2 separate regions of the Homo sapiens genome follow, and region 1 is linked to region 2. Evidence: fine-mapped expression QTL. A gene starts in region 2. The other region holds a variant in brackets. All regions are shown on one strand. Distances are from middle to middle.

The links. PIP is the estimated chance that this variant, and not a neighbour inherited with it, causes the effect. A credible set is the group of variants that fine-mapping cannot tell apart.
Region 1: its variant is the best candidate, but not a certain one, in a credible set for the expression of SHLD2 in whole blood (TOPMed, PIP 0.68).

Annotation. Positions count from the first base shown.
Region 1 is chr10:87,037,986-87,050,670 of GRCh38, reverse strand. GLUD1 (glutamate dehydrogenase 1) reads left to right here. Exons shown (of 13, transcript NM_005271.5): 13 at 1-469. It also overlaps the pseudogene RNU6-529P. Among named protein-coding and RNA genes, the nearest start is that of FAM25A, 24 kb to the right of the region's middle. The variant A/G (reference allele first, on the strand shown) is at 5,279.
Region 2 is chr10:87,087,167-87,099,851 of GRCh38, reverse strand. It overlaps SHLD2 (shieldin complex subunit 2), which reads right to left and starts at 4,646. Exons shown (of 10, transcript NM_001330112.2): 1 at 4,604-4,646; 2 at 2,863-2,918. GLUD1 (glutamate dehydrogenase 1) reads left to right here and starts at 5,009. Exons shown (of 13, transcript NM_005271.5): 1 at 5,009-5,527. The coding sequence starts at 5,083. RefSeq lists enhancers at 3,996-4,055, 6,460-6,997 and silencers at 4,098-4,355, 4,276-4,975, 5,096-5,235, 5,436-5,775.

The sequences.
Region 1 (12,685 bases), 49 kb after region 2:
GGAGTTATTTGGCCAGGGCCTTTTGAACAGTAGTGTCCCCATGAAGTGCTAGATAATATATGTGTAAGAGTCAGCTTTTTTTTTTTTTTTAACTCTAACACCCTTCAGAAATTTCTAACTACTTTGTAACTGCATGGCTTAACCTGGTGATAAAAGCAGTTATTAAAAGTCTACGTTTTCCAAAACTTACGTTTCTTTTCTGTGTTTTTACATGTGGTAGTTTCTCTTTTCATAAGTTATAATACTGCAATTGGATTTCTGAAATGTTTATAGCGACCACCTGTATAACATTTCCTTCCACTTTATTGTGAGCTGCCCAGATTTTATTCTTGAATTGTTTTTTTTTTTTTTGTTCGGTGCTTTACACGTTCAGAGAAACTTCCCGAGTAACGAACTATAGAAATGATCCCTGAAAGCATAGTCTTTATTCTCGAATTATTTTGTATTTTATTAAATAATATGAACAGCTGTTCTTGAGAAAGAGGCTCTAATGTTGAAAGCTGATAGTGAAGTAACTTTTAGTGCCGTTTTTCACTAAAGGGGATTTAATGTGGAATAATTTAGCCACAGAATGTAACAACTATTGAAGAGAGAATACTAACTGTAATCAGAACTGGATTCTAGACTTGATTCCACCAGTTACTTAACTGCCAGTGTGAAGCCTGGCTTTCATTTGGTCTTTGTCCGTATGTCACAGTTCTGCCTCTGCATGCTCCTGGCATAGGGTCAGTCAGATAAACAGGCCCCCAGTATATGGGCATAGTGAGCCCTTCCCCAGCATGGTGGTGTCTATCTGCACTCTAGGTGGGCTACTAAAATGTGTAAGGGGGAAAGTGATACAAAAACCAGTTCCAGAATGTTAGAATAATGGTGGGGCAGCAGATTTAAGTCATGTGAATGTGGGATAAGTCTTAGTGGTGGCCTTTGACTATATATTGGAAATACTGATTTTTTTTTGGTTGGGGGGTTGGTTTTTGTTTTTTGAGACAGTGTCTTGCTCTGTCACCCAGGCTGGAGTGCGGTGGTGCAATCACGGCTCACTGCATCCTCTACCTCCTGGGATCAAGCAGTTACTCTACCTCAGCCTCCTGAGTAGCTAGGACCACATGTATGGGTACGACACCTGGCTAATTGTTTTTATTTTTTTGTAGACACGAGGTCTCCCTATGTTGCCCAGGCTGGTCTCACACTCCTGGACTCAAGTGATCCTTCCACCTTGGCCTCCCAAAGTACTAGGATTACAGGCATGAGCCACCATGCCTGGCCAATGGTAATTTTTTAAAGATTAATGTTGAGGAGTATTGTTGATAGTAATATTAGAAAACTAAATTGCCTGTGCTAGCTATATAAAGATGAGAGCACTAGTGTCAGTAATTTTGGCTCCTGAAGGTTTTAGTTTTTAAAAATCTGGTCAATTACTCTTTTTACCTTGACAGAAATTTTCTTTTTTTTTTTTTTTTTTTTTTTTTTTTGAGACGGAGTCTCGCTCTGTCCCCAAGGCTGGAGTGCAGTAGCGTGATCTCGGCTCACTGTAACCCCCCGCCCCCTGGGTTCAAGCAATTCTGCTGCCTTAGCCTTCCTAGCAGCTGGGACTACAGATGCGTGCCAGCACGCCCAGCTAATTTTCTCGTATTTTGATTAGAGATGGAGTTTCACCATATTGGCCAGGCTGGTCTCAAACTCCTGACCTCATGATCCACCCACCTTGGCCTCCCAAAGTGCTGGGATTATAGGGGTGAGCCACTGTGCCTGACCTATTTTCAATTATTTTTAAAACTCACACACGATACTCAAGTTACTTGCTTCTGAAATAGCCATAGATGACTTATATAGCACCTGAAGAAGACTTAACTGGTGCTTTATGAGCCTCTACACCAGTGTATTCTAATATCCCTGATTAAGGAGATGAGAAGTAAAGGCATGAATTTTCAGTGCTTTTGGCACCCTAACTAGTAGGATTGGTCATTCCTTTTTTCTATATTTTTTCTCTTTTCCTTTTTTTTTTTTTTTTTACTCCATGACTAGCCAAAGAGCTGATTTACTTTTTTAAAAACGCTTGGCATGGCTGAGCACGGAGGCTCACGCCTGTAATCTCAGCACTTTGGGACGCCCAGGCAGGCGGATCACAAGGTCAGGAGATGGAGACCATCCTGGCTAACATGGTGAAATTCCATCTCTACTAAAAATACAAAAAAATTACCCGGGCGTGGTGGCGGGCGCCTGTAGTCCCAGCTACTTGGGAGGCTGAGGCAGGAGAATGGCGTGAACCCAGGAGGCGGAGCTTGCAGTGAGCCGAGATTGCGCCACTGCACTCCAGCCTGGGCCACAGAGTGAGACTGTCTCAAAAAAAAAGAAAAGCCTGGCATGTTAACTCACAAGCAAATAAATTCCATATTCACTAAACATCCCTGACAGGCTTTCCCAGCCCTGCTGTTTGTTAAGGTAGTCAAAGCATGGCACATGAAGAAAACTACATCTATGGATATTGTACAAAATATTGTTTTTATGATTTTTTAATATTTTTAACAGACTTTTATTGACTTGTGTTTGTATTTTTATCAAACATACTTCATTTATTTATTTATTTTGAGACGAAATCTCACTCTATCACCCAGGCTGGAGTGCAGTGGTGTGATCTTGGCTTACCGCAACCTCCGCCTTCCAGGTTCAAGCGATTCTCCTGCTTCAGCCTCCGGAGTAGCTGGGATTACAGGCATGCGCCACCATGCCCAGCAAATTTTCGTATTATTAGTAGAGACGGGGTTTCACCATGTTGGCCAGGCTGGTCTCGAACTCCTAACTTCGGGTGATCCACCTGCTTCAGCCTCCCAAAGTGTTGGTATTATAGGCATGAGCCACCACGTCCAGCCTCAAACATACTTCAGTTTTTCACCTCAGCACTGTTGACATTTTAGGCTATGTAATTCTCTGCCTTGTAGGATGTTTAGTAATATCCCTGGCCTCTACACATTAGATGTCAGGAAGACCCCCTCAGTTATAACAATGACAAATATATTCAGATTGCCAAATGTCCCCTGTGGAACAAATTCATCCCTTGTTATGAACCGTGATCCAGAGAGCCAAATAGTGATACAAGGTTTATTGTTCACAATAGCTCGTCCCCTCCAATCCAGACACCACCTGCCTCACCATTTTCCACTGCCCCAAGGCAACCACTTTCAGCAGTCTTAAATGTTTCATTTTTATTCTATTTAAAGCCTTTGCTCATTTTTAAATTGGGTTTTGTCCGCATTATTGAGTGGTAAGGGTGCTTTACATATTCCACAGCCAGTTGTGGTAGTATAGGCCTATGGTCCCAGCTACTCAGAAGGCTGAGGCAGGAGGATCACCTGAGCCCAGAAGTTCAACACTAGTCTAGGCAACATAGCAAGACCCTATCTCTAAATGAATTTTTGAAATATATATTCTAGATAATTGACCTTTATCATGCATATACTTTGCAAATATTTCCTCTCAATCTGTTATCTTTGTGCTTTCTTGATAGTCTCCTTTTTAATCTTGAGAAAACATAATTAATTTTTCCTCTGGTTGGTGTGCTTTAGGGTGTATGTAAGAAACCATTGCCTAATCTATAGTCATGCAGATAGATATATCCCTATGGTTTTTTTTTGTTGTTGTTTTTTGTTTTTTTTTTTTTTGAGACGGTCTCGCTCTGTCCTCCAGGCTGGAGTGCAGTGGTGTGATCTGACGGCTCATGGCTAAGTGCAGCCTCTACCTCCTAGGCTCAAGCAATCCTCCCCCTTCAGCCTCCCAAGTAGCTGGGACTATAGGCCCATACCACCACCAAGCACAGCTAATTTCTGTATTTTTGGAGAGACAAGGTCTTGCCATGTTGCCCAGGCCAGTCTTGAACTCCCAGGCTCAAGCAGTCCGCCCACCTTGGCCTCCCAAAGTGCTAGGATTACAGGTGTGAGCCACTGTGCCCTGGCCTAGAAAGATTTTTTTAAGAAATAGTGACCAGGCCAGGTGCAGTGGCTAACATGGTGAAACCCCATCTTTACTAAAAATACCAAAAATTAGCAGGTGGGCAAGGTGGTGGGCGCCTGTAGTCCCAGCTACTGGGGAGGCTGAAGCAGGAGAATGGTGTGAACCCAGGAGGCGGAGCTTGCAGTGAGCCGAGATCCCGCCACTGCACTCCAGCCTGGGCAACAGAGCGAGACTCCGTCTCTAAATAAATAAATAAATAAATAAATAAATAATAAAAATAGTGACCAAAAATATCCCACATTTGATGGGAGTTGTGAATCTACACATTCAAGATGCTCAACAAATTCAAAGCAGGATAAACTAAAAGAGATCCACACTGAGGCACATTATTATCAAATTGTAGAAAGTTAAAGACAGGAAAGCAGCAAGAGGTAAGTGATTCATCCTGTACAAGGGATCTTCAGTAAGATTAACAGTTGCTTATCAGAAATCACGGAGTACAGAAGGCAGTAGGACACTTCTTCCCCTCTCTCCCACTGACAGATGATATATTAAAAGTTCTGACAGCAAAAAGTCAACCAAGAATCCTATATCTTTCAAAAAAAAAAATAACCTCTAAAAATGAAGGAAACTAAGACAGTCCCAGAAAAGTCAAGGGAGTTTATCATTAGTAAACTTGTGTTATAAAGAATGCTAAAGTCTCCCCCATGTTACTCTCAGGGAAGAAAAAAAAAAGAATGCAAAAGTGGAGCTGGGGCCAGGCATGGTGGCTCACGCCTGTAATCTCAGCACTTTGGGAGGCCAAGGCAGGTGGATGGAGTTTGAGAGCAGCCTGGCCAATATGGTGAAACCCCATTTCTACTAAAAATACAAAAAAATTACCTAGGCATGGTGGCGTGCACCTGTAGTCCCAGCTGACTGAGGCTGAGGCACAAGAATCGCTTGAGTCCGGGAGGTGGAAGTTGCAGTGAGCTGAGATGGTGCCACTGCACTCCAGCCTGGACAACAGAGCAAGACTCCATCTCAAAAAAAAAAGGGGGGGTTGGGGGAGCTCAGCATGGGTTCACGCTTGTAATTTCAGCACTTTGGGAGGCTGAAGTGGGATCACCTGAGGCCAGGAGTCCACAAGCAGCCTGGGTGACGTAAGGAGACCCCATCTATACAAAATAAAAATAATTAGCCAGACAGGGTAGCTCAGGCCTGTGGTCCTAGCTATTCAGGAGGCTGAGGCGGGATGATTGCTTGCAGCCAGCAGTTTAAGACTAGCCTGGACAACATAGACCCCATCTCTACAAAATATAAATTTAAAAAATTAACTGGCCATGGTGGT[A/G]TGCATCTGTAGTTCCAACTACTCATGATGCTCACTTGAGACCAGAAGTTGGAGGTTACAGTGAGCTCTGATCACACCACTGCACTCCAGCCTGGTTGACAGAGCAAGAACCTGTCACTAAACAAAAATAATAAATGAATAAAAATATAAGAGTTCTTGGCCAGGCACAGTGGCTCATGCCTGTAATACCAGCACTTTGGGAGGCTGATGTGGGTAGATCACCTGAGGTCAGGAGTTTGAGGCCAGCCTGGCCAATATGGTGAAACCCTATCTCTACTAAAAATACAAAAATTAGCCATGTGTGATGGCACGTGCCTGTAATCCCAGCTACATGGAAGGCTGAGGCAGGAGAATCACTTGAATGTGGGAGGCAGAGGTTGCAGTGAGTGGAGATTGCACCACTGCACTCCAGCCTGGGCAACAGAGCAAGACTCGGGCTCAAAAAAAAAAGCTAAAGTGAGTCCTTCAGGCTAAAATGAAAGGATACAAGATAGTAACTCAAAGCTATATGAAGAAATAAAGAGCACTGGTAAATGCAACTATGTCGCTAAATATAAAAGCTAGTATTACTGTATTTTGGGTATGCTATTCCTCTTTGTGATTTAAAAAATGCATAAAGGCCGGGCGCGGTGGCTCAAGTCTGTAATCCCAGCACTTTGGGAGGCCGAGGCAGGTGGATCATGATGTCAGGAGATTGAGACCATCCTGGTTAACATGGTGAAACCCTGTCTCTACTAAAAATACAAAAAATTAGCTGGGCATGGTAGCGGGTGCCTGTAATCCCAGCTACTCAGGAGGCTGAGGCAGGAGAATGGCATGAACCCAGGAGGCGGAACTTGCAGTGAGCCGAGATTGCGCCACTGCACTCCAGCCTGGGCGACAGAGCGAGACTCCTTCTCAAAAAAAAAAAAATGCATAAAATAATATGGATCTATGTTAATAGGCACTAATTGTTTAAAGACATAATTTGTTAACTATAGGTAGGGGACAGAGAAAGGAGCAGAGTTAATGTATGCTATTGAAGCTGAGTTGCTATCAGTCTGAACTAGACTTTGAACTCAGCATGTTAAATGAAATCTTCATAGTAGCCACTAAAAAAATAACTTTTAAAATATACAGAAAAGAATTTAAGAAAGGATCAAAATATTACAGGATAAATCATTAACCAAACACAAAAGAAGGTACTGAGGAGCAAAACACTTCATGTAGAAACTAAACAGCATGATGACGTAAGTAAGTTCTTTGGTGTATAGGTTTTTCTGTTTTTCTTTTTTGGGGTTTGTCTGAGACAGAGTCTTGCTCTGTCACTCAGGCTGGAGTGCAGTGTTTCATTCTCAGCTCACTGCAGCCTTTGCCTCCCAAGTTCAAGTGATACTCAGCCTCCTGAGTAGCTGGGATTGCAGGCGCCCACCACCACAGCCAGGTAATTTTTTGTATTTTTAGTAGAGACAGGGTTTCACTACATTGGCCAGGCTACTCTCGAGCTCCTGGCCTCAAGTGGCCCACCTGCCTCGGCCTCCCAAAGTGCCAGGCACAGGCATGAGCCACTGCACCCGGCCTGTTTGGGGTTTTTTTGAGACGGGGTCTAGCTCTGTTGCCCAGGCTGGAGTGCAGTGGCACAATCACGGCTCACTACAACCTTGACCTCCGCAGGCTCAGCTGATCCTCCCACCTCAGCCTCCTGAGTAGCTGGAACCACAGGTGTGCACCACCATGCCCAGCTTATTTTTCTATTTTTTGTAGAGACAGGAGTCTTGCTATGTTGCCCAGACTGGTCTCAAACGCCTGGGCTCAAGCAATCTGCCCACCTCAGCATCCCAAAGTGATAGGATTACAGGCCTGAGTCCAACCATAAGTAAGTTTTTGTTTTTTGTTTTTGAGTCAATCTCTCTGTCCCCCAGGCTGAAGAGCAGTGGTGCGATCATGGCTCACTGCAGCCTCACCTCCAGGCGGGAGCCACCATGCCGGTCAATTAACTTTTTTGTTTCAGTAATCACTTTAAATGTAAATAATCTGACCAATGGAAAGATCGGCAGAATGGATTTTTTTTAAATGATGTAATACACAATCCAAATATGCAACTTACAAAATACTCACTGTAGACCCAAGACACAAATTGTTTCAAAATGAAAAGACGGAAAGAGATAATCCATGCAAATAGTAACCAAAAGAGAGCTGGGGTGGCTATACTAATACCAGACAAAATAGATTTTAAGCCAAAAAATGTTACAGAAAGACATCGTATGTTGGTAAGAGAGTCAAATCACAAGAAGATGTAACAATTATAAATACGTATGAACTGAAAAAGAAAAAAAAAGGGCTCTAAAATGCACAGTCTAACAAAATTGAAGGAAGAAATAGTTTTACAATAACAGAGACTTCAACACAGGCTGGAGTGCAGTGACTCTATCACAGCTCACTGCGACCTCTGCCTCCCAGACTCAAGCGATTCTCCCACCTCAGCCTCCCCAGTAGCTGGAACTATAGGCACACGCCACCACACCCGGCCAATCTGTGTATTTTTTGTGGAGATGGGGTTTCATCATGTTGCCCAGGCTGGTCTCAAATGCCCAAGCTCAAGCAATTCGCCCACCTCAGCCTCCCAAAGTGCTGGGATTACAGGCCTGACCTACTGTGTCCAGTCAATACCCCACCTTCAATAGTAAATAGAACATCTAGACAAAATCAGTAAGGAACTAGAGGAATTGAACAACACACTAAACCAAATAGACCTAACAGACATATGGAAAGATATCCATCTAACAAGAGCAGAATATATATTCCTCTCAAGTGCACATGGAACATTCCCCATGATAAATCATATGTTAGGCCACAAAACAATTCTCAATAAATTTTAAAAGGTCAAAATTATACAAAGGGCCAGGTGTGGTGGCTCACAGCTGTAATCCCAGCACTTTGTGAGGCTGAGACAGGCGGATCACTTGAGCCCAGGAGTTCAAGACCAGCCTGGGCAACATGGTGAAACCCTGTCTCTACCAAAATAAAAAATAAAAAAATTAGCCGGCTGTAGTGGTGGTGAACGCCTGTAGCCCCAGCTACTCAGGAGGCTCAGGCAGGAGGATGGCTTGAGCCTGGAAGGCAGAGGCTGCAGTGACCTGAGATCATACCACTACACTCCAGCCTGCAGGACAGAGCGGGACTTGTCTTAAAAAAAAAAAAAAAAAAAAAAAACAGGCCAGGCTTGGTGGCTCATGCCTGTAATCCCAGCACTTTGGGAGGCCAAGGTGGGTGGATGACCTGTGGTCAGGGGTTCGAAACCAGCCTGGCCAGCATGGCAAAACCCCAACTCTAATAAAAAATACAAAAAATTAGCTGGGAGTGGAGGCAGGCACCTGTAATCCCAGCTACTTGGAAGGTTGAGCTAGGAGAATTGCTTGAATCTGGGAGGCAGAGGTTGCAATGAGCCGAGATCACACCACTGCACTCCACCTTGAGCAACAGACTGAGACTCTGTCTCAAAAAAAAAAAAATTATGCAAAGTGTCTTTTCCAACAAAAGTGTAATGAAGCTAGAAGTCAATAACAGGAAAACCTGGAGAATTTGCAAGTAAGTGAAAGTTAAACAACATTCTTAACCAGTGGCTCAAAGAAGAAATGACTAGAGAAATTGAAATACTTTCAGATGAATTAAAATAAAATGCAAGATACCAAAATTTATGAGATGGTGTGACAGGGGTACTCAGTGAAACTTATAGCTGGAAATACTTACATCAGACGGTCACGGTGGCTCATGCCTGTAATCCCAGCACTTTGGGAGGCCGAGGCGGGTGGATCGCGACCATCCTGGCTAGCACAGTGAAATCCCATCTCTACTAAAAATACAAAAAAAAAAAATTGGCCAGGTGCAGTGGCGGGCGCCTGTAGTCCCAGTTACTCCGGAGGCTGAGGCAGGAGAATGGCGTGAACCCAGGAGGCAGAGCTGGCAGTGAGCCGAGATCATGCCATTGCACTCCAGCCTGGGCGACAGAGCGAGACTCCATCTCAAAAAATAATAATAATAATAAATACTTTCATTAAAAAAGGACAATCTCATGCTTGCTTCATCAGCACATACACTAAAATTGGAACAATACAGAGATTAGCCTGGCCCCTGTGCAAGGATGACATGCAAATTCGTGAAGTGTTTCATATTTATTTTATTAAAAAAAAAAAAAAAGACCGGGCACGGTGGTTTACACCTATAATCCTGACACTTTGGGAGGCCGAGGTGGGTGGGTCATGAGTTCAGGAGATCGAGACCATCCTGGCCAATATGGTGAAACCCCGTCTCTACTAAAATACAAAAAATTAGCTGGGCATGGTGGTGCGCACCTGTATTCCCAGCTACTCAGGAGGCTGAGGCAAGGGAATCACTTGAACCCGGGGGACAGAGGTTGCAGTGAGCCAAGATCGCACACTGTACTCAAACCTAGTGACAGAGCAAGACTCCATCTCAAAAAAAAAAAAAAAAAGAAAAGATAAAAGGAACGATTTCAAATTAACAACCTAACTTTACACCTAAGGGGTATTTAACCTTTTGGTTTCCCTGGCCACATTGGAAGAATAATTGTCTTGGGCTAAGGGAGGAGACCACCCCTCATATTGTCTTATGCCCAGTTTCTGCCTCCAAAGAAAGAAAGAGAAAAAACTAAAAGGCAGAAATGAAATCCACAAGCAGACAGCCCAGCGCCACACCCTGGGCCTGGTAGTTAAAGATCGACCCCTGACCTAATCGGTTATGTTATCTATAGATTACAGACATTGTATAGAAAAGCACTGTGAAAATCCCTGTCCTGTTTTGTTCTTAATTGCCAGGGCATGCAGCCCCCAGTCACACACCTGCTTCTTGCTCAATCGATCACGACCCTCTCATGCGCACCCCCTTAGAGATGTGAGCCCTTAAAAGGGACAGGAATTGCTCACTTAAGGAGCTTCGCTCTTGAGACAGGAGTCTTGCTGATGCCCCCAGCCGAATAAACCCCTTCCTTCTTTAACTCAGTGTCTGAGTAGTTTTGTCTGCAGCTCGTCCTGCTACGGGGCCACACATAAAATGCACTAACCCTAACAATAGGTGATGAACTAAAAAAAAAAAAAAAAAAAAACCTCAAGAAAATCTCATACTGTTTTCTGTTATTTGTAAAGTTTATGAATTTGTGTTGGGCTGCATTCAAAGTTATCCTGGGCTGCATGTTGGACAAGCTTGACCTAAGGTGTAAAAGAAGAGCTAACTAAACCTACAGCCAGCTGAAGGAAGGAAATACTAGAGATTAAAGCAGAATGAAATAGAGAATAGAGGAAAAATAATTGTCAAAACAAAAAGTTGGTTCATGGGAAAAAAAAACAAATTTGATGAACCTTTAGTTAGACTGACTCAGAAAAAAAAAGAGAATAGTAAATAACTAAAATCAGAAAGAAAATGGTGACATTATTACTGATCTTACAGAAATTTTAAAGATTTTTAAGACAATACTATGAAAAATTATATTCCAAAAATTAGACATCTAGATAAAATGTAGATTCCTAGAAACACACAAATTACCAAATATGACTTAAGAAGAAATAGAAAATCTCAATAGACCTATAACAAGAAAAGAGAATACATACACACACATATACCCATACATAAACCTACTGGCCAGGCATGGTGGCTCACACCTGTAATCCCAACACTTTGGGATGTTAATGCAGGCAGGTTGCTTGAGCCCAAGAGTTCAAGACCAGCCTGGGCAACATGGCAAAACCCCATCTCTACAAAAAGTACAAAAACTAGCAAGGTGTGGTGGCTCACACCTGTAGTCCCAGCTACTCAGAAGGCTGAGGTGGGAAGATCACTTAAGCCAGGAGGTGGAGGTTATAGTGAGCCAAAGATTGCACCACTGTACTCCAGCCTGGGTGACAGAGCCAAAAAGCAAACAAACAAATAAACCTACTAGAGCTAATTTTAATTCAGCAAAATTGCAGGGTACAAAATCAACACACAAAAATTAGTTATGGAAATATACATGTTAAGATGGCCAACTAGATGCAGCCAGGTGCAACAGCTGCCACCGAGGGACTGATTTGACTGGTGCACTACTAATGGATCTTCAGAGGGAAGGCACTGAGAGTAGATGGAGGGAAGACACAGAAGCTAGGCTAAAGGGGTAGTAAGCTGGGAGGCCTGCATGGGGCTACTGCACCCTGGAACTCATTCCTGGCCCCCAATGACTGGGGGAAAGGGTGAGTTGAACTTGCAAGAAGCAATGCTTCTTATGTCCAGCCTCTGGAATCCTGGCAGGAGATCCTTTGAGCATCATGGACAGTAGAGTTGCAAGGGAGAGAAGCTTGGAGAAGCAGCCAGGGCAGCAGCCAGCTGATGAACCCAGAGGGTTTGGTGTGAGAGCAGCTGTAGTGGAGCACAGCCAAGGACAGCCACACCCCTAGACTCAACTTGCTCCCATAGGAGACTTTCACCCTAAGGGAACCACTGGGCCTGAACTTCGCAATGCAGTCTTACTCATCAGGCAGGGCTGGTCCTACCTGAGCACTCCTTGGTTCGCTGGCCTCTCTGAGGGTCCAGCCTGGCCATGCCTGATTGCAGGGAAGCCTTGAGCACCCTAGGGGCCCACATCATAGCTCCAGTGCTGGTGGACCATGCCTGAAATGCGAAGAGCTCCCCCGGGGCAGCTCCCAGGGCCACACACCAGTGCACACACTCCTTCTACACTGCATCTTCCCCAAGGCCCACGGTAACACCGCACATGGCTTTGCCAACATGTGTGTGCATGGGCAGCTTCTGCTTATCTTGTCCTGCCAGCCTGCATGTATGTGTACACCCTGCCCTGCAAGTACTGCAGCAGGAGTGCAGTCTGCTCCACTCTCCCTTCTGACCACCACTGTAGTCAGAGCCTTGGTGGGCACAGAGCCAGCCAGCCCCAACCCCTCCCCTGCCAGTGCCCCACCCATTTGCCAGCACTGCTCCAAGTGAAACTAGGCACAGAGAACAGCAGACTCTTCCCTACCCTGAGCGCTCTCCAGCACCCTGCTGCCATGTCAACACCACTACTGGTGCAACCACATGCACAGACACCAGAAGGGGCCCCCACCCTGCCAGCTGTGTTCCCTTTGCTGCTGTGGTAAATGCTGCCACAGAGGCAGGCATGCCAGCACCCACTAGCACCCTACTGCAGCCATGCTGCTGCTGCCACTGCCGCTGGCACATGCAAATGGGGATGGATTCCACTGTCTCTGCACTACTAAAAGCTTTGGCTGACATCACCCGTTAGAGTGTAGTGACCAGCAGTCTGAGAGCATCTTGGCTCACCCAGTGCAGTGGATTCTTATCCTTGAGGAGACAGAACAAAGTTGGGGCTCGATACAAGTCCTCCAGGGTTACAGCACACAGTCCAGGAGTTGGGAGCTCAGTGTT
Region 2 (12,685 bases):
ACTGCAAATAAATACTTCATACCCACTAGGATGATTATAATAAAAAACACACATAACAAGTGTTGGTGAAGAAGTAGAGAAATTGGAACCTTCATTCACTGCTGGTAAGAATTAAAATGGTGTAGCCACTGTGGAAAAGTTTGGCAGTACCTCAAAAATTTAAATATGGAAGTACCATTCCTAGGTATAAACGCACCCAAGAGAACTGAAAACATATGCACACACAAAAGTTCACCGCAGCATCATTCAGAATAGTCAAAAAGTGGAAATAATCCAAGTGTCCATCAATGATGAATAGATTTTTAAAATGTGGTACAGTCATACAACAAAAACTATGTAGCCATAACAAGAAATGAAGTACCTGATACATGCTACACGCATAAACCTTTAAAATACTCTGCCAAGTGAAAGAAGACGGTCACAAAGGGCCACATACATCTTTTATAGGAAAAGTCCAGAATAGACTGATTTAGTGAGACAGAAAGTAGAAAGTATATTTTTACCTTTCAAATTAAATTATTTTTAAAAATGAATGGTTCAAGAATTTATATGCTATGTTTTTCTAAATCCTAACAATCTTCTTCTAAAATATTTTTAAGAGAGAAAAAAGCATGCTATGGATCAAGAAAAACAGACCTGGAATTTTAAACCAGCTAAGGAAAACTCTAAGGCAGAAAACTCATTTGACTTTGTGGAATGCTATTGAATGTTCCCTTCAAGCTGAATTTTGGTCTTCGTTTGAATGGGAAATTACTACAAATAATTAAACTTTATTGTGTGAGGCATGGTGGCTCACACTTGGAATCCCAGCACTGTGGGAGGCAGAGGCGGGCATATCGCTTGAGCCCAGGAGTTCGAGACCAGCCTGGGCAACATAGTGAAACCCCACCTCTACCAAAAAGACAAAAGTTAGCCGGGAGTGGCGGCAGGTGCCTATAGTCCTAGCTACTCAGGAGGCTGAGGTGGGAGGATTGCCTGAGCCCAGGAAGTCCAGGCTGTGGTAAACTGTGATCGTGCCACCGCACTCCAGCCTGGGTGACACAGTGAGACCCTGTCTCGAAAAATAAAAATAAAAAAAAACCTTACTTTGCAAATTATCTGTATATTTTACAAAAGCAATCATAAATCTAAAGTTGAAATTCATTAGACTTTATATCACAGTAAATAATTTCTAACTAAATGGAACAAATACTTAAAATACTCCTTGGAATAGTATAAATAGTATAACTTTGGAGTCAGATACACAGGTTTGAATCTTACCCTATTTACAAGCTTGGTGATCATCAACAATTTGTTTGGTTTCTGTGGGCCTCACTCCCTGTTTTTTTTTTTTTTTTTGAGATGGAGTTTCATTCTTGTTACCCAGGCTGGAGTGCAATGGCGCAATCTCAGCTCACTGAAACCTCCGCCTCCCAGGTTCAAGCAATTCTCCTGCCTCAGCCTCCTGAGTAGCTGGGATTACAGGGATTCACCATCACACCAGGCTAATTTTGTATTTTTAGTACAGATGGGGTTTCTCCATGTTGGTCAGGCTGGTCTCGAACTCCCAACCTCAGGTGATCCGCCCGCCTCAGCCTCCCAAAGTGCTGGGATTACAGGTATGAGCCACCACGCCCAGCCACTCCCTGCTTCTAATAAATCAGGAATTATAATACCTACAGTGTGAAAAGAAATACTCCAAATATTCACTAAATGGGGGAAGAGATGGATAATTTCATTCTGTTTTTCTAAAATCTATTTCTGCTGTTCATATTTTTTTAACAACTTGTATGTAATTTTAAAACATAATGACCAGGTGCAGTGGCTCAACACCTGTAATCCCAGCACTTTCGGTGGCCAAGGCGGGCAGATCATTTGAGGCCAGGAGTTTGAGAACAGCCTGGCCAACACTGTGGAACTTCGTCTCTATTAAAAATACAAAAAAATTAGCCTGGCATGGTGGCGGGCGCCTGTAATCCCAGCTGCTCGGGAGGCTGAGGCAGGAGAATCACTGGAACCTGGGAGGCAGAGGCTGCAGTGAGCTGAGATTGCACCACTGCACTCCAGCATGGGCAACAGAGCAAGACTGTCTCAAAAAAACAAAACAAAACAAAACCATGATGATTTTAAAAATAAAAACATCTGTTTTATAGGGTACTCATGAAGCCAGTTTGTAAGGCACCTACACACAGGAGATTCTCAATTAAAAAAAAAATAGTAATTTCCACAGCTCTATTCCTCACCTCTTCCAAAGCTTCTTCAATTCTGCCTTTCCTTTTTTGAGATGAAGACTCGCTCTGTTGCCCAGGCTGGAGTGCAATGGCACGATCTCGGCTCACTGCAACCTCTCTCCCTGGTTCAAGTGGTTCTCCCAAGTAGCTGGAACTACAAGCACTGCCCAACCCCCTCCCCGCCACCACGCCTGGCTAATTTTTGTAGGCCCCCCACCACGCTTGGCTTATTTTTGTATTTTTAGTAGAGACAAGGTTTCACTGTGTTGCCCAGGCTGGTCTCGAACTCCTGACCTCAAGTGATCCGCCCACTTTAGCCTCCTAAAGTGCTGGGATTACAGGCGTGAGCCACCTCCTTAGGCCCAATTCCACCTTCTTGAATTCAGGTGAACAAGTCACAGAAGAAGCAAAGTTAAACATTTATTTTTCTGAAGGCTAAGGTTATAAAGAACAACAAAAACAATAAAACTAAGCTTTTAAAGATTTTTCCTCAGAACATAAACAAATAATTTAATCCAAAAAGAAAAATATTTCCATGTTTACTGATGCTAATCATTTTATTCTGAAACTCCGTGGGTTTTTTGCAGGAGTGGGGGATTGCAATGTAAGAGAGTAAAACGATAATACATCCAGAAAAAAGGAAATTTGATACCTTAATCTTTTGACCATCAAGGAAAATTCAGGATTCAGGTCAGAGTACATTTTTCACTGAAAAACACAGTGCAAATACAATTAATGACAATGACTTATTTAGCAAGTAAGGTAAAATATAAGTTCCACCTGTATGAAAAGATAATTTTGACTTTGAGAGTACACTTAGATGAATGTCATTTAACAGATCCAGGTTGTCACCTTATATTTTACACAATATTTCGAGAACTAAGAACTTTCTCTTCCATATTCTAAAAGATGAATAACATGAACATATCGGGAAGCACCATCGTTTTGCAGGTCCAATGGGTGTCATTTTAAAACCACCCAAGTACACTGAGACCGCTAACGCTAGTAATGTGGTGTTTGGCAGCTAGTTTTAATGACTGTCATTAGAGCTTTATTTTTTATTTTCTTTTTATAGAGACGAGCCCAGGCTGGTCTTGAACTCCTGGCCTCAAGCGATCAGCCTGCTTTGGCCCCCAAAGTGCTGGGATTACAGGCGTGAGCCACCGTGCCAGCCTCGTTAGTTTGAAAAGCACCAAAAGCTATCCATAGGAATGTGAACTTTAGCATTTCCTATCAAGTATGTATAAATACATAACTGAACCCTCATACAGCATAAAGCTTATAAATCATATACTGAGGCCAGGCGCGGTGGCTCACGTCTGTAATCCCAGCATTCTGGGAGGCCTAGGCGGGCGGATCACTTGAGGTCAGGCGTTGGAGACCAGCCTGGCCAGCACAGCGAAACCCCGTCTCTACTAAAAATGCAAAAATTAGCCGGGCGTGGTGGCGCGGGCCTGTAATCCCAGCTACCCCGAGGCTGAGGCAGGAGAATCGCTAGAACGAACCCAGGGAGGTGGAAGCTGCAGTGAGCCGAGATGGTGCCACTACACTCCCGCCTGGGCGACAGAGCAAGATTCCATCTCAAATAAATAAATAAAATAAAAAATAAATCATATACTGAACCATTTAACAAATACATATATTCCTGAGAAAGAATTTCCTGGGGGCATTATCGCATTTCTAGTTTCCTTATTTTAGACTATTTCAGAGGGAGATAGGGTCTCCCTCTGTTGCCCAGGCTGGGGTGCAGTGGAGCTATCGTAGCTCACTGCAGCCTCGAACTCCTGGGCTCAAGCCATCCTCCAGCCTCGACCTCCCAAAGTGCTAGGACTAAAGGCGTGAGCCACCGCGCCGGGCCGGAGCCTCTGTCTGCAAAGGTGAAGCAGTCAGTACTGTGGGGCGACACAACCACGACGTGCGTAACTATGCGATCTCCACACTGCGGAGCAGTTGAACGGGACAATAAAAGCTCGCGTGGTGAGAGCTTGTGGGCGAGTGACTCCCTTCCAGCTCACGCCAGCCACGCATAATCCAACTCCGGGTGCCACGCCGCTCTCTGCAGCCCTGGCTGGTGACGCCGAGCCCTCAGCCCGGCCTTACGCGGCGGCGGCTCTGCCTCGCTTTCCTGCCCACGTGTCAGCCCCTGCACGCCCGGCCCCGGCCTGAGGCCGCCAGAGGACAGGCCAGGGTGGGCCGCCCGTTCCGAGGGCGCGCGGGCGGAAAGGAGGGGCGCCCGTGACTCACATGACCCGGTCCCCGACCAGACCGCCAAGCCTCACCCACGCGGCGCTCGGGGGGACTCGGCCTCTGAGCGCCCTACAGAGGCCAGCCCCCGACCCCGACCTCCCTGGGCTACCCCCAACCCCCCTGAGGGACCCCCGCGGCGCACATACCTGAGAGCCCCGCCGGAGGCGGGTGCGGCCTCCGGGCAAATCCGGCCGCCCGTGGGCCCGCCCCGACCCGCCCCGACCCGCCCCGACCTTCCCCTCCCTGCCCCTCCCGTCCGTTCCCCTCCACTCTCCTCCCCGCCCTTCCTCTCCCCTCCCCTCCCTTCCCCACTGGCGCGCGAGCGTGCGCGCCGAGCCCGCCCGCGCCTGCGCGCCCCCGACGCCCCGCCGGCGCGCGCTGCCGCCAGCGAGGCCCGGGGAGGCCGCGGCGGAGGCGGAGGCCCGGCGCCCTGGGCGGCGCCCTGTCCCCGAAGTCCGTCCTCCCCGTTAGGTGGCGAGCGCCCGAGGGGAGGGGACAGCCGGGCAAGCAGGAAGCTGCGGCTTAAAAGGGCAACCCGCGCGGGACCCTTCCTCCCTAGTCGCGGGGAGTCTGAGAAAGCGCGCCTGTTTCGCGACCATCACGCACCTCCCCTCCGCTTGTGGCCATGTACCGCTACCTGGGCGAAGCGCTGTTGCTGTCCCGGGCCGGGCCCGCTGCCCTGGGCTCGGCGTCCGCCGACTCGGCCGCGTTGCTGGGCTGGGCCCGGGGACAGCCCGCCGCCGCCCCGCAGCCGGGGCTGGCATTGGCCGCCCGGCGCCACTACAGCGAGGCGGTGGCCGACCGCGAGGACGACCCCAACTTCTTCAAGATGGTGGAGGGCTTCTTCGATCGCGGCGCCAGCATCGTGGAGGACAAGCTGGTGGAGGACCTGAGGACCCGGGAGAGCGAGGAGCAGAAGCGGAACCGGGTGCGCGGCATCCTGCGGATCATCAAGCCCTGCAACCATGTGCTGAGTCTCTCCTTCCCCATCCGGCGCGACGACGGCTCCTGGGAGGTCATCGAAGGCTACCGGGCCCAGCACAGCCAGCACCGCACGCCCTGCAAGGGAGGTGAGCGTCGGCCGGGCCCCGTCCCGCCCTCCCTGCCTCCCCTGCGGCCCTCCCCTCCGGCCTCCTGCCGGTGCGGGGCCGCTGCTCAGCCCAGCCCAGCCCAGCTGGAGCGGGCCGGGTCCCCGCCCGGGTCACCCCGCCTCGGATGTGGCCGGCTCTGTGGATGGTGATTTTTCCGCCTTAAAATCATCATGCGATTGGCCTGCCCCCTCCCCCGCGCCGTCACCCCGGGCCTCTGTATATGCTGATCTTGCATGCAGAGTAGACGCTGCACCGGTCTCCTTTTGGTCCCGGTGTCTGTGTCACACACGGCGGGTCCTGCCGAAATGCACTTCTAGGAAAGGGAATGACCTGCCCGTGTGATAATGCCTCGTCAGTGTTCTTGGGCTTTTGTGAGTCTCCCCTAAATGCAAGCTGTCAAATTATTTTCTGGTATTTGTTCACTCCTGTTCCAATAGTGACAGATGATATCCGAACATAGAAAATGACTTGGCTTCTAAGTTTGAAATCTAGACAGTTTTATTAACCAAAGGAATTTACTAATCACGCGTTAATCGTTTCAATTAAGTAATTTTCCCATTCTGACAAGTTCTGTTTTATACCAAAAAAAAGGAAAAACACAAAAAAATCACAAGCAATGTAATATCTCTGACAAATAAACACCTGGCGTCCTGACAGTAAATTTACAGGTTGTAGGCTGCGGATGGCCAGCCAGCCAATGGAATGAAATAGCTCTGGGGGTGTGTACTGGTCCTGGCTAGCCCTGAATTTGAGCTTCAGGAAAAATATAGTACGTGAAGAAAGGGGTCAGATAATGTTTGGTAGTCACTGGGTTATCCTGTGGTTTAAATCATTTAATGTCTGTAGATTTGGCCTCTGTAGTCAGATTGCTTTCTTCGAGCAAATAAGAGCTTTTTTCCCCCCAATACATTGCATCATACCTCTTTAGTAACATAAAATGGAAAGGACAAACCACTTTTGTCTACTGTAAAAAAGAAAAATTATATGGAATAAAGAGCCCAGGGAGGCGAGGAGTCTTGTTGGAGGTGGATTGGCTGAGAAGCACAGAGGATGTTGGGCTAGACCCATGTCTCAGTAAACCTGGTTCTGTGGTCTTTCAGTTATGCCCGCTGACTTATGAGGATTTTTAGAAATCCTCTCTGTACCGGAAAAAACTTGAGCGGTGCTGGTGTTCCCAGCAGGGGGGACAAAGGTTGTTTTTAAAGATTTACTAAATTTGCATTGACCCCGCCCACTTCTAGGACTTAACTTTGGAGCTTAATTATCCCCTAGCTCTGGTTGCCTCAGCCAAAACCAATGTTTGAACCACTTTGACCTCTGATTTCCTTTCTAGCTTCAAAATTGTATAAAATGTACACACCGTCAGTCTCCTACATTTGCCTGCCTTCTTCCTACCACTCCCTTATTATCCAAACCAGGAAAACAAGTTCAGACTCCAAAGAAAGGCAAATAAGGATGTTGGAGGAAGTTCAGGCAATGTTTAGCAAATATTGAGTTGCATCGTTTTCTTAAAACGGACATCAAGTTTATTTTTTACTATCTTGCTGGCAGCATTTGCCAGTCCTTTAAAAGGTGTACAGATAAATCAGTGTATGTGGTTTTCTGCAGGATGATTTGGTCTCTGAAATCCTTTTTCTTCGATTCTTCAGATGCCCAGCTCTCTCCTGTTTTTATAAGTCGCAGCTCCGCAAACTCACTGAAGCAACTCGTTTACCATAGTTTGTGAGTCCTCTTTCTCTTGTTGCCACAGCAGTTTTAATGCCAAAATATTGAACCTAGCAACAAATTGGGTCAGCCATACCAAAGCACTGTTACTGTAGCACTTGCTTGTACTAGAGTGTAAGATACAATTTTCTGTTCCGTTTATCCCATTTACAAAAAAACATGCTATTAACCCCCAGCATATAAACAGGGAGAAACTGAATTGTTACTAGTAAACTGTTGCAAGCATTGATAGAACATCAAAGAAAATTGGCCTCTACAAAGTGACAAATTTATTATCTTCAGGAATTTGAAAGGCTTTCTGGATTGGGGAAGATTACATAGCTATGAAAGCCCTTAAATATTTTAGTTTGCTTAATAAACAGTATACTAAACAGATGATCAGCAAAATTTGGGTACTATAGCCTTCCATGCTTTGTGTTCAAGACATCCCCAGATCTATCTACCCATTTATCACCCTTGTTTGCAGAGAATGTGCATTGTAAGAGAGACAGGTCTTCTTTCTTAAAGCTTTTTTAACGTCTAAGAAATTGTTAACCTTTGTAGTCCCACTCTAGTCTTAGAAACACAGAATATATTAGGTGATTGAGATTTTTTTAAATGCTTTGGATAATCCCTATGAAATTCTGTCTTTCCCTCTTAAACATATTTTAACACGTTCTTCTTACCTCTCCCCACTAACCTGTCTTCTCTCCCATTGGTTCTTTGCCAAAAAAAAAAACCTCATCTGCCTCTCTCCACCCTTTTACCAACCTTCAGCTTTCTGTATCTCATTTTCCCTCAAGAACAACCTTATCCCTGAGTTTTCTAAATTAAAATTCTTGAGGTTGAAGCAAAGCAACAATCTAGCAATAATCTCTAAGGGAAACAGATGGTTATAAGACTTGGTGGCTGATGTGTACTTTTTCCAAGTAAATATTTAATAATACACACTGTTTTTGTGCTTTTCTTTTCCCAGTTACTACATGTACCTGAGGCCGTTAGATTTGTCTGTGTTAAGGATTTGAAAGGGTAAGCTAAAGGATCTGAAGGGAAGTTTAAGTGAGGCCTTAAAAATATTTCCAGCAAAGGGGCATAGTGTGAGAATATGCGACTGATTTGAGAAGACTGGTTCAAAAGTTCTGGTGGGTTTGGAAATATTATCAAAGATTGTTCTATTAACTTTCCCAGAGTAAATTATCTGTATTTCATTTGCTATGGTTCTGCCTGAGACCAGTCTACCTTTTTAGAAGGAAGTTTATTGTTTTAAAGTCAGTTTGGAGGGAAAGTACAGATTGATAATAGCAATTTATTGATGGTAGGAGTCAATTAACTTTCTCTTCCAGTCTGCCCCCCCCCAGTTGTCTTGATATTAAAACTATTAAAATTCCCTATCACTGATGCTACTATCATAAAATTTTCTAAAATTATCATAATTTACATATAGTTGATGGACCGTAGATGGAGTTCTCTCATACATTGACCCTAAGTCTTTTAATTACAAATATTAGTACCCAAAAAAGTGTACCCTATATTAATCCAGTAACTAGTTTTTAAAAGTCAAAATGCCAGAAGGAAACAGTGGAATCTTGATGACATAATGCAAGGGAAGACCGGAGTCAATGCAGTGTTAAAGACGCCCTCAGCCTCTGGGATGTCATTGTTTAGCGCTTAAGGGAAGACTATAGAAAGCACTGATACTGATTTAAAATGAGATATTTCTCTGCCTTCACTGGGGGAAAAAATGTTTCTGACTTATTTTGCTGTGCTCAATTGACAACCATCAAAACTTAGGTAACTTTTAATAAACTCACAGTTTCTAATATTTTTAAGTGGCTGTGTGTCTGCATCTGCTGCCACAGATAAAATATAACCTTTGTAGGTGAATTTAATTTAGGACTTTTCTGAAAGTTCAGTCAGAGGATAGGTAATTTGTGTGTCTTTTAAAAGCACTTAGCCCCGAGGTTGTTGTTTTTAATACATCTTATTTAAATACGGAAATGTGTTGCCCTTATGCCTTTTTATTTCATGGAAGCCAAATGCGTCTTTTCTCCCAAAGTATACTAGAAAATGAAGACGCTTGGTAATGGTAGTGATCTGTACATCAGATTTCAGTCTTTCTGTCACTTGCGTGTATGAATCCATTTAGCAAGTTTGCTTTTGGCAGTAAAGCCCCACGTGCAGGAAGACAAACAGCTGCTCACTCATTATCCAAAGTATACTTTGTAAGAATTAGGGCATCAAAAATTGGATCCTAAGCACCAATATATATTAAAGTTCAGTACAACTTGTAGTGTTTAAGTACAAGAAATAAAAATTGAGCCTGAACTTTTGGCATATAGTGGGAAGAAATTAGGTTTACCGCTGTTAATAATTCAGAGTGCTTAGGAAAATCGGTTTTTATTTACTTATGTTAAAAATACTAAGGGTTCTGTAACCATTAAAAACTAAAATACTAACCTGTAGATGTTGAAAAAATCCTAGACACTAGTCTCTGCCACGTGACTGTTCTTCTTTTCTATTTATTTTACCCAATAATTAGGCTTTTACAATGTAAGTAATAAAGAGAAAAATCTCTAGTATCACTTTAGAGCACATTGATTCATAAATAGCCCATAAATTTTGTACTCAGCAACCCATAAAATACACATGCATGATTCACATAATCAAATAGTAACGAAAGTTACAAAATGAAAAGTGAAGCAGCTCTACCCCAAGTCCTTCCCCCAATATAACCATGAACAGTCTTAAATCTAATGCCGCTGTCTAAAACTGACTAGTTATTCAAATGAATCAATATTTTCCCCTTTCCAGAGGCAGAAATTAATACAGATTCAAGTGTTCACTATCAAGTCGGAATTGTTAATATGTGAAATACTACTGTTAAAGGCAGGAAAGGCTTTATTAAGGACAAGAAGACAAACTAGGAGAAGGAGCTACTCAAGACCTTCCGATTATCTTTACAAAAAGGCAACTACACCTAGAAGATTCTGCAGCCACACACATTCTGCCTTCACTTGAGGTCAACTGCCTTCACCAAGGTCAGATATTAGCAAAGGCTAACATTTATTCAGCTCTGTGTGTGCCAGGCATTTTATTAAGAACTTTTCATGCATCATCAGTTCTATGCCTTATAGCAACAATGCATGTAAGAACTTTTCATGTATCATTGCTTTTATGCCTCATGCAATACACTGTTGTCCCTGATTTCCAAATGTGGCTACTAAGGTTGAGGAGTGAAGTGTCCTTTGGCAGGGTGACACAGCTAGTACGTAGTGGAGTTGAGGTTCAGATTCTGGGCATCTGATTCCAGCACCCACCTTAATCATTGTTGTCTGGGATTTATTTATGCAAAAAGTTACAAATTGTATCTTAGGCTTTTAATTGTAAGCGCTGATTGAGAACCACTTCATGCCATTGACACAATGCTTCCTAATACTTTGGATCATAGATACCTTTGAAATTTCTGTTAAAAGCTATTAGAAGACCTACCTTCTTCCTAGAAAAATACATATTCAAACAGCTTTGCATATAAAACTCAGCATAGATGATATCTCTAGAGGTCCATTTATTCTAATTGCTAAGGAAATGAAATAACCTTTTTCCCCTACACCCAACTCCGAAGACCTGAAATAACATTTTAAACAGTTTTCCATCAAAAGAGGTTTGAAGACTTTGGTGTTTAAGAGATTAATGTGTTAGCCAGAACAACTCATTTCTCTACCAGTGTGTAGTCCATTTATCTTTAAAGATTTTCTATTGAATAATTTTGAAATTACTTTCTTAGTTTTCTTCATTAAAAACTAAGAAAATGCTTTGTTTATTATGAATTGCTATTTCTCTTGATTATTATTCTTGGAGAAAGTCTATCAGACGTAATTCTTCTGATTTGCTTCTAGGCTAGAGGAAAATGTGAAAGATGACAAATGAAAATTTCAAAGGTTGTCAGTAGTATGACTTCTTTTATCGTTTGTCATTATCACAAATATATCAACATAGGACTTTTAAAAGATATTTTGTACATATTGGGCCTTAGTAGGATTTTGCATGAATTTTTTTTTTCTTTTATGCCAAGAGAGAAAGAGCAAAGAAATAACCAAGGGTGATGTACTCGTATTGAAGGTTTACCAAATAAGGACTGCTTTTATTATGAACTATAGTCTATATTCTAAGTAAATCAATTTTTCTATTATGTGTTTTTTGTTCCTGCAGGCAAGATCTCTGAACTTTATGCAGAGGGTTCTTTTAAAAAAACAAAGTTGAATTTTTTTATTTCTTGGAATATTTTTTTTCATTGATTTCTCCCAAGTAGAGCAGATTCAAATCTCCTTTGTACCCTATGTCTTTTTTGTTTTGCTATAAGCTCAGTATTCCATTTCTACATTTTCCTTTCCTAGAACCAGTCAATAAATGACAAAAAAAAAAACAAAACAAAGTAAATCATGTGTTGTTGCAGTAGGAGTTCAAGGAAACCAAGGACAATCTTGTTTGTTTATTTGTTTTTTTGTTTGTTTTTTTTTTGAAACAGAGTTTTGCTCTTGTTGCCCAGGCTGGCATACAGTGGCGCGATCTTGGCTCACTACAACCTCTGCTTACCAGGTTCAAGCAATTTTCCTGCCTCAGCCTACCAAGTAGCTGGGATTACAGGCATGCACCACCTCACCTAGCTGATTTTTGTATATTTAGTAGAGACAGGGTTTTGCCATGTTGGTCAGGCTGGTCTCGAACTCCCGACCTCATGTGATCAGCCCACCTCGGCCTCCTAAAGTGCTGGGATTACAGGCGTGAGCCACCGTGCCTGGCAGACAGACAGTCTTGATGTGGGAACAGAGAAGGCTGGATAGGAGTTGGATAAGGCCATTTCAGATAAAGAGGGGGTGGCTTCACCCAAGGCAGGAAGTGGAACTGTGTGTAAGGGGGTCATGAGGACAAACTACATTTGTAAATAATGAGAAATAAGGGCTTGTGACAGTAAATATATTTGGTCTCTTTGCCTGGTTCCCAACACAGAGCTCCTGAATGTCGCAAATTCCTGAGTGATAGGAGCATCTTTTGTTCTAACTAGGACACTCTTAATGGGCTTCTGGGTAGCTTCAAGGTGGGGACTAGTCACCAAAAAGACCAAGCCATAATTAGAAATTTGGAACTTTCAGTCCCACCCTTTGACCTCTGGAGATTGGAAAGGGGCTGAAGATTGAGTTTAATCAGCAATCAGTCATGCCCTCATAATGGAACCTCTATACAAACCCTAACTGATGGCTGGAGTATGGGGAGAGTTCAGAGAGCTTCCAGGTTGGTGAATGCATCCATGTATGGGTAGGGTGGTACCCTCCAAATTCCAGGGGAACAGAAGCTCCTGCAGTGGGGACATTCCAGACATGGCCCTGTGTACCTCTTCATGTTGCTGTTGATTTGTATCCTTTACATAAGTAACGT